4 linked regions of the Homo sapiens genome follow. The protein of the gene in region 1 interacts with the protein of each later gene in a pairwise test. Each region holds a gene or a part of one and is shown on either strand. Other genes may lie near its edges.

Region 1 (2,762 bases):
ACAACAAAAAAAGACTCAACCAACCTACCTAGAGGTCCGGGGCCTGACCAGGGCCTCTGCCAAGCTGGCTTGACATAGAAGGGGAAGAATCAGCTGTCCACTGGGAAAGCCCCTCTCCCACCTATCATCTAGTGCCTGTTGTCCCTTTAAGGGTAAAATCACTTGCATTTTGGTGAAACAGGAAAAAAGAAACTATTATCATGAAAATTACTGTCTAAAACCACAACAAATCCTATCATAGTAGGAAGCGTTTGTTCCCAGGCCCTCCATACACAATTAAAAAGCAAGTAGGGACTAGATTACCTCTTCTCATGTAATTCCCACAGCAATTGTGTGAAATACAGAAGAAATGGGGGCTCCGCAAGTATAGAAACACCTGTCCCTGAAAGGCAAGTCAGGACTGAAATTCAGCCCATGCCCTGCTCAGCAAGCCACCTGCCCCAAGGAAGGAGTGTCTTTTGCTAATTCTCACAAAGGTGCCGTATGGATTAGCAATAGCCTTTTTTTTTTAATTTTTGCTTTATTTGAATATAATTTTCTCATCAATTTTGCTTGCATAAATACAGTTTGTTGCTTGTTCTGGTTTAGTCTAATAGTAAGTTGGAGAAGTCCTGGAGAATGGGCATCCTGGTGGGGTGGCAGAATGGGGTTCTCGCTTCAGCAGATGCAGCCCCCCAAACACAGCACTCCATGGATGAGGACTCAAAAGATGAATGTCATTTTCTGCCCCTGTGTCTCAGAGATGCCCTGAGGCTGTCTGACAAGGTGAGCTGTTCCACACAAAAAACAAAGAATTAATCACACCTTAGTCCAGCCTGAGTTGGGGCCAGTCTATTGCCTGGGTCCTGAGATGTGCTGCCTCAAATGTCTTCACTGGACGTGGTCATGCCTGAGACCAGAATGGAATAAAACAATCCATTTGAATACAGCGATGGATGGTCAGAGATGTCCACACACATCTCTGCTCACCCTCACCTTCCTGCAAACTCCATTCATTTATTTATGGGGAAATTTGATGTTTCCCTCAAATGTCCTTTCCCTCTCAGAGAATAATTTTGTTTCCCCGTCATCAGATAGCACTGAGAAAGGGGCCAGAGTTGGGCCTCTCTGGGGCTGTCCCTGCAGTACTCCTGGGACCCTTAAGCCTCGGTCTTGGGTTCCTTCATGGATTTGACAAATTCCTTGACTTCTTCTTCCAAGGCCTTGTTCCTCTTCTCAACATCCTCCCGGGAGCGCTCCATGTTGCGGAGGCTGATCTCTAGGGCTGCAGACTTCTTCTTTTCCTTCTCCAGTTCTTCATTGAGCCTCACCACTTTAGCCCAAACGTCATAATTTTCCTTCTCAAGGCTACAAGGAAGGAAAGAAAAGAATGAAAGAATGTGGCATTCATTCTAGACTCTTCCTTCCCCCTTGCTCACAACCTGCTGCTCATTTTCCTTTCAAATCACAAGACCCTTATCCAACCTCTCAGCTATGTCCCTCTTCCCACATGAAGATGTCCCAGAAAACCTGAATCCCCACAGTACTTCTGAGCCCCTCATTTGTCATTTTTTTTTGGATGGAGTCTCGCTCTGTTGCCCAGGCTGGATGGAGTGCAGTGACGCGATCTCGGCTCACTGCAAGCTCCGCCTCCCAGGTTCACACCATTCTCCTTCCTCAGCCTCCCTAGTAGCTGGGACTGCAGATGCCCGCCACCATACCCAGCTAATTTTTTCTTTTTTTTTGTATTTTTAGTAGAGACAGGGTTTCACCATGTTAGCCAGGATGGTCTTGATCTCCTGACCTCGTGATCCGCCTGCCTTGGCCTCCCAAAGTGCTGAGATTACAGGCATGAACCACCACACCCAGCCCCCTCATTTGTCATTTAACACCATCTTGTGACATCTATTGTGTTTTTTCTCATGTCGTTTAATGTTTTGTATCTTCAACCGGATAACAAAGTCTTTGAAAGGAGGGACCAGTTCTAACAGATCTATATATTCACTCCCACAGCACCTTGTATCAGTCCTGGAAGCCCCATCCATATTTCAAATTTCTCACACCTCTGTGCTCATGAGTGCCTCCTCATCCTGTGTCAATGGAGAGCATAGATCAGCACCCTTTCTTATTAAGGATCTCCTGGGGACCAAGATTTGGAGAAACAGAGGGAACTGCCCTTTGGGGAGCTGTGGTCCTGGCAGTCTCACCCTCACTTCTGAATCCCATGCCAGGTGAAAAATCTGTGGGATTCCTGAATTGCTAGGATTTTAATCGTTACTGGCCCAAATCCTAATGTAGTGCCAGGTGGCCCCCTGCCAGGCTGTGCTGAATTAACCCTTAGGAATGAGTGTACACATGCCGATTGTGTGACTGGAAATTTGTTTCAGAATTTCATTCTGTAGAGTGTGCCTCCCTTCTCCCCAAATGGCCTGCCCATTTGCACAAGGGAGACTTGAGCTCCCATGTGAGCCCAAAACTTGGGTTCTATCTTCAAGGGCCTTGGCCTATTCTGTGGGTAACAATCCATCTTCAGAACTTTGCTTACCCCCACCTATCTCTTCTTAAAGCTAAATTGATCTCATTCCATCTTTTTTTTTTCCTTTTGTTTTTTTTGAGACGGAGTCTCGCTCTGTTGCCCAGGCTGGAGTGCAGTGGCATGATCTCGGCTCACTGCAAGCTCCGCCTCCCAGGTTCACACCATTCTCCTGCCTCAGCCTCCTGAGTAGCTGGGACTACAGGCACCCACCATCATGCCTGGCTAATGTTTTATATTTTTAGGAGAG
Region 2 (4,281 bases), on another chromosome or scaffold:
TACATATCTTGTTCCCTCCAGCCTCTACTATACTGCACTACTTAGAAAGCTCACTACTCTCTTCTAACATAAAGTGAAAATTCTACTTCAGACCTCCCTAGAAATGGGAGGATCTGTAGGATATGGCCCCATAAGGTACCCTGGCCAAGGAAATAGTGCCAGCCCTGCCTTAAGCTCTCAGTCTCAATGCTCTCTCTACCTCATCTATCAAAGCGTCTTCATACAGATGTGGGTATAAACCGGGACTGGTGTTACTGCTGTCGGCCAAAACACGCAGGACTCTCATCTTGGTGGTTTCAGCATAGGCTCGTGGACCCCACAGGAACTCATAGCATGGAGGATCACTGTTGCACACCTGCCGGTAAACCACGTACTTATCTTGCACCAAATCTTCAGTAATGATCTTCCGAGCATCCCCATAGATTGAATGCAGGATCCCATCATATATCCCCAACAGACCCAGGAACTCCCAGACCTCCTCTTCAGTGGCACAGTTGCCGTTCATGAAGATCACAACCAGGAGCGACATCAGGAGACCCGACTTCGGCAGCGCATTATCACCACTCAGAATTCCTTCACTGGGGAGGCCTAGCTTGCTGACAAGGGTGTAGGACTCGCCGCTGGAATCCATTTCTTTCAATTCAACGCCAAAGGCCACCACCAAATGTTGGGAGGTTCTGTTGAGGATCTGAGGGAAGTAGGGCTTGTACTCTCTGCGGACACACTTCAGCATGTCTGCCTTCAAAATGGACTCTTTCTTCTCAAACTTCTTCTGCAGGAATTGCGCCAACGTGCACGCCTTCTTCTTTACAGCATCTTTGCTTAAGCGCTTAAAAATGATGGCTTTCTGTGAGGCGCTTACACTTTCCTCATCTTCACCCTCGGCAGCCACATCATATTTTGAGCCTGAAACACCTGCATCAGGCGAGCCAGTGGGTGAAGCTCCCTGAGACTCCTGAGGAACGGAGACATCATGGGAAGTGCTTGGACTTTTCTCATCTTGGCCGTTGGCAGCCACATCATATTTTGAGCCTGAAACACCTGCATCAGGAGAGCCAGTGGGTGAAGCTCCCTGAGACTCCTGAGGAACGGAGGCATCACGGGAGGTGCTTGGACTTTTCTCATCTTGGCCGTTGGCAGCCACATCGGATTTTGAATATGAAACAACTGCATCAGGAGACCCAGTGGGTGACACTCCCTGAGACTCCTGAGGAATGGAGGCATCAGAAGACCTACGACAATCACCCAGACAAGCGCGAGAAGAGGATGAGGAAGAGTGGGACTCTTCCTGCTTCTCTGCAGTGGCCTGGGGACCCGTGAGACCCTGTGGCTGACCATTGGTCTCTTGGCGTTTCTCACAGGTACGGAGCTTACTCTTGTGACCCCGAGGCATGATGGCTGTGGCCTGTGACAGCAGGTAGGAGTGTGGGTAGGAAGACTAGGAAGGCTGGCACCTGGATGGGAGAGAGTGACGTCACGTCAATATCTTCAGCAGAGAGCGACCATCTTGGCTTTAACTAGGGCCCCTTCTGCAGGTTTCCGCAGAACAGCTGCTCTAGGAACCCACAGGACTCCTTTTCTCCTGGTCAGTTTGTCTCCTTCAAACTCAGGAGGAAGTTAGAGTATTAGACTATAGCATGACAGCCCATTTTGGGGCTTACTGAGGTGACAGCAGGGGCTGGCAGTGGGGGCCCCTCTGTTCAGGGGTTGGATCCTCTCTGTTTACATTCAGGATCATCATTAAAACTGGAAACCATCATTCTCAGCAAACTATCGCAAGGACAAAAAACCAAACACCGCATGTTCTCACTCATAGGTGGGAAGTTAACAGTGAGAACACATGGACACAGGAAGGGGAACATCACACTCCGAGGACTGTTGTGGGGTGGGGGGAGGGGGGAGGGATAGCATTAGGAGATATACCTAGTGCTAAATGACGAGTTAATGGGTGCAGCACACCAGCATGGCACATGTATACATATGTAACAAACCTGCACATTGTGCACATGTACCCTAAAACTTAAAGTATAATAAAAAAAAAATTGTTGACAAGACCCAGAGGCCCATTTCCTTGTGCCACTCTGAAATTGACAGTAGGAATTTTAACCCGGAGGAAATAAGGAAGCACTTCTGCCCAACACTTCATTCCGGGGACACCCAGACCACCTAGGGCTGACAACAGCGGAGGCATTTGAGTGCTCTTCCAGTTATAGTGAGAATGCTCCTCACAGTAATTAGACTCCTCACCCTGACTCTTCCCACAACCTGGAAATCACCCTCACTGACCTGCTGCCATCTCCTTACAACCAGGGGCCTACCTCTCTGACTCTCACAGGGACAAAGTGAGAATGCACCTCAGTCTCTAGAGACCTGCCCGGACCCCCAGGCTAACGTCAAGGGCAGAGTTCGGTGCAACCCGTTACGGGACATGGAATCCCCTCCCTCAATTCTAAGGAGGGTCCTCTTAACTATGTAGGGCCTGAGATTTCTCCCTCTACTGACCTGGGTCCACAAGCCTTGGACCGAGGCCTTCATGTTCTTCAACACGACGGAAAAAAATGAATGGACTTTGGGCCTAACAGCCATGTTTGGGGACTCCTCAGGGACCAGGTCGGGGCAGGTTGGGGCAGGGCTCTGTGGAGCCGCCTTTCTTCGGGGGAAGGGGGTTGAAGTTGTCGGGGAATGCCCCCCGTTCTAGGTCAGGATACCCACCAAGACAGCTGAGAAGATCTGGGACGCCTCCTTCCGCTGACGTGACAGCACTTTTCAGGCTCAGGCGACCGGCTCAGACCCCTTTATTAGGTGGAAGTCAAGAGGAACCACTTCCGGCCACGCCCACCTGGCGCTCCCTGCGTAACAGTAGCTGCAGGGCTCTGTTACTCCCCCTTGTGTTCTGTGGGTGCAGCAGATTCCAGGGAACTCACGTAAAGTTCTTTCAGGGGCTCTTCGCGGACCCTTGGACTTCTCTATCTGTTGAGCTGAATCAGTCAACCGGAGATAGAGGCTCTCATTCCCTGAGAGTCCAGAGTTGGAAGTAAGGTGCAGCCTGAGCTCGGGAGCCATGCCGGGACCTTCCAAGACTGACAGTAGGGGTGGAGCTCTGTGAGACCCCCTTTTTGGAATGGACTTTGCCCTCAGCCCTCACTCAGTGTCGTCGCTTCATTCTTGCCATGTCCCCTCTACTGACTTGAGGACACCCTCTCAGACTAGACTTCAACTTCCTGAGACTCCTCATGTGCAATTCAGTTACACCTCACCTGGCCACTACTGCCTGGGGCCTCCTAAACCTGGCTGCTGCTATTAAGTTGTGATGCAAGATCGGGGAATGAAGGGAGATTTGGGGGGCACTCTTGTCTCTTCTGATATGTGGAGCCCCTCAGTCCTCACTCAGGGTCCTCACATTGACTGCTGGCAGGGTCTCAGTTTTCTCCATTTTCTGATGTAAATTCATCCCCTTCCTCTGACTAGATCCTGTAAAATTCATAAGGAGAAAGTGAGAAGACTTCTTAGCCTGATAGCTATGTCTGGGACTTCTCTCTTGGCTGACATCAGTGTCTGTATTCAACACCTTCATGAATGAATTTCTACCATTATCTTGTGTGACTCACTGCAATATTTGCTATCCTAATTTAGTCCATTCTTTATATTATATTAAAATAATACGAATTTAAAGGCCAGTCCACTTCCACTAAAGAAGTTTCAGGTAGTTATTAGCACAGTGTCTGGATTCATACTTCTTCAGCCTACCCAGATGTTTTTGCTGTGGCAATATTACCCCATGGAACTGGCACATAGGGTCCAAGTTTCTGACTGAATTTCCTTTAGTGAAGCAGAAAAAAAAATGCATTGTCCAATGGCACAGTGAAAGAAGCAAAGACCAAAGTTTTAAAGCTTTTCCTCTAGCCAATTCCGTTATCTGCGTCTGTTGTAGGCCACAGACCTGTCTCTACTTCAGCTCATGCCCCTACCTGCCCACACACCCATTCTTGTTCAATACAAACTGACCATCTCTCAAGGTTCGCATTTTTGTTGTTTTGCTGTTGTTAATACTGCTTTTTTTTTAAAAAAAAATTCTTCCTTTAACTTTTCTATGGTTGAGTTTGGTCATGGGAAAGAACCACCCGGGTTTGGTTGTCATCTTCACAGCTATGGCTAAGGCAATGAATCTGTAAAAAATTTAAGGAGAATCAATAACTTTACAATATCTCCTCCACAGTAAATAAACATAGTACACTGCTTTATTGGAGATTTATTTTTCCTAAGTCTTTCAGTAAATTTTTA
Region 3 (2,725 bases), on another chromosome or scaffold:
GCTGCAGCCGCATCCCGGAAGCCGGCAGAAGGGCCTAAGGCTCTCTCCCGTCAGGGCGGAGCGCCCCATCCCCTTCCCAGCGCCCCCAGGATGGACGGCCGGTTCACTGACCTAGCTTGAGCCACGCGCCGACCAGGAGCGACAGCAGGGGCAGCAGCGGTAACCCATGCCGGGCCATCAGGACTGCCGCGCTGCGCCGCGTACACCCACGGCCCCGCTGCGCATGCGCCCTCATGCACCGCAGCGGCAGTCGACCCCTATGCACATGCGCAGGCTGCGCCACCACCCGCCCCGCACCCAATAGTTCAGCAGGGGGAAACTGACGGAGCGAGGCGGAGGACTGGCCACACCACCTTCAGGACCGCCCAGGGAATTAAGGAAAACCACGTTGAGGGTCCCGGCCGTTCCAGAGGCCCCTTCACTACTTTTCTGAACCTTTGGACAGTTTTCATTCCCCTTAAGATTGCTTTTGTGCGTCATACCATTGCAAGAACAGAAAGGAGGTTTCAACTTAACATTTATTGCACAACTCACTTCAGGCCACTGCTGACATCCCAAAACACAGCCTAGTAACACACAACTTCACCTTCAAGGACTGCAGAGATAGACCAACTATATATAAATAATCTCGTGGAAACGTAATTTGGGTGAGAAAAATATGACGCTAGAGACTTTGCGATGAATATTTTGCCTAAGTTCAGAAGCTTGAAAATACAGTTGGCCTACAATCTCAAATTTCACCCAATAACCGTGGCCCTTAGTCACCACACCTTCCATCATCTTTTTACCTCTGCCTGTTCTTGCCCTTTACAGTTGCAGCTCTCTCAACTCCCTTGCCTCTAGTTGACTCCTCTTCCCATTTCCTACAACTTTGTGGCGGGAGCATTTTAGCAAAGCCATTTCAAAGGCGTTCAAAGTCCAACTGATCCAATGCATTTACTCAGAAATTTATACCAACAGGGATGCTTTCAATATTTTAAATTACTTGAGCATTTATATTAGCATAAAAATTTTAAAACCAAATGCTTAACAATAGGGTAGTTGGATAATTTAACATACGTCCACATAAAATTAAACCATTAAAATTTGCTTTTCAAGAAATATTTAATAACAAGGTAAGTAACATATGCTTATCTAACATGGAATTTTATGTCACTGCTGCTAAAGCAAAACATCCTGTTCACTGGATAAAAGACCTGCTTTATGTGTATACACTTCAGTGCAATTTTTAAAAATACTATAATTTCAGAACTTCCAAATTTCAACAGATGCCAGTGTTCTCTCCTTTTTTCATATGGGAAAATTTCTTTCAAAATTATTTGAAGCTTGGACAAAAATTCCACAGCTGTAATCCTCAGGATCACTTTGCAGTCTTCAAGATTCAGATACAGAGGAAGCTTCAATTCAACCTTTCAGAGAAGACATTCCAGCTCGCATGATCTCATCAACCAAGAGAATGTTGGTGGCAATCACAGTGCTGAAAGGGGGACAAAAATAAGATGGCTCAGATGATTAGGAGCCCTAATTCGACTCAACTTCCCACTTCCAACCAAGCTGCACACATTACATCCAATTAAATTTCCCCCTTCCCCTCTACACATCAGAGGGCTAGTTCAGTTTCCATACTTCCAGCTGATCACATTATTCATGGGGGAAAGGAGCAACTAAACAGAGAACACCAAATGAAAAAAGTATGATTCTCTAACAGTTTAGTTTTCATTTTCCCAAACTTACCAGGAGTGAAGAAGCTGTTTCTTTACACAATAGTTATCCCATACGCCTACTTCTGCTGCCACCATTGGCTCACCTAAAAGGCAACCAAATCTTAAAATAAGTTCAGTCAGTAAGAACCAACAATATTGTGTGCAGCTTTGCTTATCACTGATGACTCATTTCCTCCAGTATTAACTATGAGAATTCAAAGCTTCTCTGTTAGCCCAATTTTCTACTCTAAACCATGACCCCCGTCCACAATATTTGATGAATGTCTGACTTATACTTAGAAGTCCTGAACACCCCTCTCTTCTTCTGGATACATTTCTGTTTACTCATACTGAAGTATAGCACTTCAACTATAATCTGACTAAAATGGACTGATCATTTCCCTCATTCCAGAAACCTTTTCTATTAATGTTGACAATAGGTCTTGCACATACTGCATGGAGGTACCTGTTATCTCCTACTTTGTACTTAATTTGTGTTGTTTTGTTACAGGAACCTAAGATCAGGGCTGTCACCATTTCACTAGATTTCTACATCCCCTTTTCTGGCATTAATTGCTATCTTTAGCTGGTTTTCACCCATGAATATAATCACCACATCTATTTTCTTATCATAGTACTTGATTAAAAACTGAGTAAGGCAAATGCAATATGAAAATCCTTCAACATTAATCTGAACCATCTACCACCACTCAACATCTCCAAAATTGTATCCCCAAATTACTCATGTCTACTCGTCCCTTAATTATACCTAGTCATTCCATTTTTTATTAATATCCTATTTTATCCCATTTTAGAACCCAGAGTTCCCTAACAGCACTGGTGTCAAATTGCAAAGCAAAACATTTTTAATCTTTCCTGGCTTCAACTCACACGTATTACATCTAGTTTTCCCTCTACAACAGTTGCATTCTCTTACCTGTGTTCAGGTCCACACCCACAAGCTGACCTGATTCTGAATGTTCTGCTTGAATTTTAACTAATGTTTCCTGAAGGTCAAAACC
Region 4 (4,123 bases), on another chromosome or scaffold:
ATTTTTTGTATTTTTAGTAGAGATGGGGTTTCACCGTGTTAGCTAGGATGGTCTCGATCTCCTGACCTCGTGATCTGCCCGCCTCGGCCTCCCAAAGTGCTGGGATTACAGGTGTGAGCCACCACGCCCAGCCCCCAAACTATTCTTAAACTTAAATATCAGATTAAAAAATCATTCAACTGAAATTTCAGAATAGCTAATAACTTATCATGATATGGCCAGGTGCGGTGGCCCACGCCTGAAATCCTAGCACTTCGGGTAGTCGAGGCAGGCAGACCACTTGAGATCAGGAGTTCAAAACCAGCCTGGCCAACATGGTGAAACCTCGTCTCTACTAAAAATACAAAAAAAAAGCTGGGCATGGTGGCATGTGCCTGTAATCCCAGTTACCAGAGAGGCTGAGGCAGGAGAATTGCTGGAACCCAGGAGGCAGAGGCTGCAGGGAGCCGAGATCACGCCCCTGTACTCCAGCCTGGGCAACAGAGCGAGATTCCGTCTCAAAAAAAAACAAAAACAAAACCAACTTATCATAATACAGACATTTAGGACATTTATGCCAATGGGGTATTTCCAACAGTCTAAATAAAGGGGAGGAGGGTATGGAACAAAATTTTCAAGAAAACTCAAATTCACCTGAAAAAGCTCATAACTCTAGATAAAGTATTAGGAGTCACCACAAAAGCAAAACAGTAATATATCGTAACTCTAGTCAACCAGGGCCTAAGCTATAACTGAAAAAAAATTAAAGCACGAGCCGTTTTTCTTAAAGGCTCAAATCTTCTAAGTACAGTTTTTAAAAATTTTGGGAAATTGGGGGAGGGGGATGTAGACTGTAAAAGAACTATTTTCACATAAGTTTAATCTAAGTATCTTAAGTTTCTAATAGAAGAATTAATACAAGGCTGGGCACAGTGGCTCATGTCTGTAACGTAATCCAACCAGGCTTTGAGAGGCCACTGTGTTTACTGGGTAACACAGTGAGACCCCACCTCTACGAAAAATAAAAAAAATTAGCCAGGTGTGGCAGAGCGTGCCTGTAGTCCCAGCTACTTGGGACGTGGGAGGCTGAGGAAAGATGATCGCTTGAGCCCAGGAGGTCCAGGCTGCAGTGAGGTATAATCATGCCACTGCATCCAGCCTGGGCAACAGAGGGAGACCCTGTCTCAAAAAAATAAGTAACTCTAAATTTAAAGCAGCAAGATATTTACAATTTGCAATGATTGATCTGATTTCGCTAAGCAACCCAAACATACATTTTCACTCTTTATCTAAAACGTTTTAAAAATAAGGTTCTTACCAAATCCTTTGTTGAAAATATCTCTGGCAGCTTTGCCAAGGTCAGCATATGATGGAGGAATACACATTGCTGGTAGAAAAAAAACATTCCAGTGTTAATGTCTCTATTCTCCCACCTTCTATCCAAGAACAAGAGCATGACCCACTGCTGATATTAAAATTCAAGCAATCCCATTTGTTGGAATGTTTTTTATGCGGTCAGGAGCTACAATAGAACTATAACGACCCATAAAGGAGATACCACCAACGAATTATTTCTAAAACAGATAACCATGATTATACAAACTTGGGGAATTCGTTTCAAAACGGAAAAACAGTCTATTACCTACAGCCTCACTTCCTAGGACTGGACAAGTACAAAGAATCAAACAAGTATTTGTGTGTATGGATATTTATGTATCTGCCAAAATTCACTGAGATGAGCTGATTTAACTAAATTAGATAAAACCGAAACCTAAGACTAGGCCCTTTACCCTGATACGTCCTTTAATATCTTCGCTGAGGGGAAAACCAACACCCTGGAGTGGGAAGAGAATTTAATACTGGGAATTTAAATATTGAAACTTGGAAAAAATACTGCCATGTGTGTTTCACTCAAATGTCTACATCAACTAAATATCAAATAGCGCTTCAAACTTACTAATGTGACTCTCAAGTCCTCGGCCAATGCTGTGCTGCTTAAGGGCAGGCAATCTGAGCTCATTACACCAGCTCATTCATTCCACAAAGCACGTCCACGCCCTTAGGAGCACAAGTAATGACCTTGCGCTCTCACAAGAGGGACTGCTACTTCCTCTAGAAAAGTGATTGATCCGATCCTCCAAAGGCAGAATCCCCAATTAACAACTTTTTACTTCTATACGTCAAAGACATGTACAAAGGCTGAAAAGTCCATGCGGCCACAGACCAACTCCCCGGGCCTTGTTCCCCATTTGAAATCCAGCAGCCCAGCCCCTCCTCCGCAGAGGAGGTGGTCAGACGGTGGGGCGACCACCAAAAGCAGCCGAATTTCCAAGTTCTTGGAAAGATAGGGGGAAACAAACTGGGTTTCTGGTCGACAGGCTTCGACTCTCCGCCGCCCCATCCCGCAGAGATCCCAGCTTTACTTACGACGCGCGCAAGTCTGTCCGTGGGTCGCCATGGCGAGGCCGCGGGAAGAGGGGAATCTGCGGGAGGGACAAGAAGTGCGGTAAGCTGGGGTCAAAGGGCCAAAGGGAGATCCCGGGCAGAGAGGGGCGAGGGGCCGCGGGGCAGCGCGGCCATCTTAGGAAGCCAGGGCCGACTCCGAGTCCGGCGCGGGCCTCCGGCTTGGCCGCCGCGGCCTAGGCCCCTGGGTCGGCGTGAGGCGGGCGCGGCGGTACCTGGTGGTGTCCTGAGGGGGGCCGCCGCCACCGCTCCGCTAGCTGCTGAAGCCGCTTGGCACGCTCGCGGTCGGGCTGCAGCTCCAGCAGCTGGAGGGCGAAGTGAAGGAGACACCGTTCCGCCCGCCGCAACCCTGTCCTCTCCCAGACAGGACCCCGCCGCTGCCCCCGGGGCTGTCCGCCGCGCCTGTCCCTGCAGCGCAGCCCGCTGCCAACTCCAACCTGCTCCAGAGCGGCCACGTGGACCGACAGCGCCCCGGTCCTGCAGGTGGGCTGCCTCCGTCCGTCGGTGGGGATCCGGAAGGCAGAAGCTGCTGGGCCTTGGATCAGGCAGCTATCCGGGCAGCCTCAGAGGCGAGGGGGCGGGGAACGGCGGAGGCAGCGCGCTGGGGACCGCCTGGGAGGGGGATGGGGCGGAGGCCCCGCGCGAACGCGTCACGGACGGGGCGGGGCGTCGGCGCGTGGCCGGGGCGATAGGGCGCGGCTGCGCACCAGGGTCACGTAGATCTCTCCTACTCCCCTTACGCGCTGGTGCGGGTTCCCCCCCGAAACAAAGCCCTGCATAGGGTGCCTGCGGGGAGTCAGCTGAGCGTTACCCACGTCCATCCTAAGCTAGCGCAGCCTGCGCTTCTGAGGGACCGCTTCTCTTTCCCAGCCCAGGGAGAACGAGTGGGACACAGGGGCGCCACCTCCAGCCCCTCGCGCTCTTCTGCCCTCTTTTCCCACCTTGGTGTGACTGCCTTGCTGTGCTGGGTTGTGTGCCTGAGAGGCTTTTTGGGACTGCCTCTCCCTGAACAAATGTGAGCGGGTCCTAGCGTGCCCCACCCATTTCCACGCCGCCTTACGCTTTCTCTTCCGCGGCTCCTCCCCACTCAGGCATGGCACTGCTTCACACACGCACGGAGCCGGAGCTTGGCGAGGCAAGCCTGCTCCGGGCCCAACCTCCTCTGGATTATGGGCCTGGAGAAAATGTGGAATCATGCTGAGCAGGCGTTAGAATGCCGCACCCGAGTTCCCCGGGTGTGCAGGAAGGGTGACAGAGCTATTAGATAAAATGTATATGGGAGACCGTTAGTTTAGACTGACCTCCTGCATTAGGCCCATCAGACCAAACCAAAATGGGGTTACTCATGCTGAAGTTTCACACTACCACGCCAAAGCTAGGATCTTTATCTGACCTTCCAAGAAATCAGGAGAGAAACAGATGCTAGCCAGATCCCCAAACAGGCTGGGCGCGGTGGCTCACACCTGTAATACCAGCACTTTTGGATGCCGAGGTGGGCGGATCGCCTGAGCTCAGGAGTTCCGGACCAGCCTAGGCATAGTAATACCCTGCCTCTACCAAAAAAAAAAAAAAAAAAAAAAAAAATAGCCGGGCGTGGTGGCTGGCGCCTGTAGTCCCAGCTAATTGGGAGGCTGAGGAGGGAGGATCGCTTGAGCCTGGGAGGTTGAGGCTGTAGTAAGCT

What was found.
Region 2: the proteins of ARHGAP25 (region 1) and MAGEB6 interact in binary tests that used the Homo sapiens proteins (3 or more experiments, as listed by UniProt).
Region 3: the proteins of ARHGAP25 (region 1) and CCT6A interact in binary tests that used the Homo sapiens proteins (3 or more experiments, as listed by UniProt).
Region 4: the proteins of ARHGAP25 (region 1) and VDAC2 interact in binary tests that used the Homo sapiens proteins (3 or more experiments, as listed by UniProt).

What each region holds. Positions count from the first base shown.
Region 1 is NC_000002.12:68,824,572-68,827,333, reverse strand, and holds the end of ARHGAP25 (rho GTPase-activating protein 25), read right to left. Parts: intron 1,348-2,762; coding exon 1,140-1,347; 3' UTR 501-1,139; downstream 1-500. UniProt on the Homo sapiens protein: GTPase activator for the Rho-type GTPases by converting them to an inactive GDP-bound state.
Region 2 is NC_000023.11:26,190,959-26,195,239, reverse strand, and holds the start of MAGEB6 (melanoma-associated antigen B6), read right to left. Parts: upstream 2,801-4,281; 5' UTR 2,713-2,800; intron 1,455-2,712; 5' UTR 1,394-1,454; coding exon 170-1,393; 3' UTR 1-169.
Region 3 is NC_000007.14:56,061,765-56,064,489, reverse strand, and holds the end of CCT6A (T-complex protein 1 subunit zeta), read right to left. Parts: coding exon 2,641-2,725; intron 1,808-2,640; coding exon 1,735-1,807; intron 1,478-1,734; coding exon 1,405-1,477; 3' UTR 501-1,404; downstream 1-500. Other genes in the region: SUMF2 (inactive C-alpha-formylglycine-generating enzyme 2 isoform i precursor), read right to left, coding at 112-178. UniProt on the Homo sapiens protein: Component of the chaperonin-containing T-complex (TRiC), a molecular chaperone complex that assists the folding of actin, tubulin and other proteins upon ATP hydrolysis.
Region 4 is NC_000010.11:75,209,473-75,213,595, reverse strand, and holds the start of VDAC2 (non-selective voltage-gated ion channel VDAC2), read right to left. Parts: upstream 2,801-4,123; 5' UTR 2,658-2,800; intron 2,463-2,657; 5' UTR 2,438-2,462; coding exon 2,407-2,437; intron 2,115-2,406; exon of another isoform or gene 2,013-2,114; coding exon of another isoform or gene 1,937-2,012; intron 1,367-1,936; coding exon 1,298-1,366; intron 1-1,297. UniProt on the Homo sapiens protein: Non-selective voltage-gated ion channel that mediates the transport of anions and cations through the mitochondrion outer membrane and plasma membrane.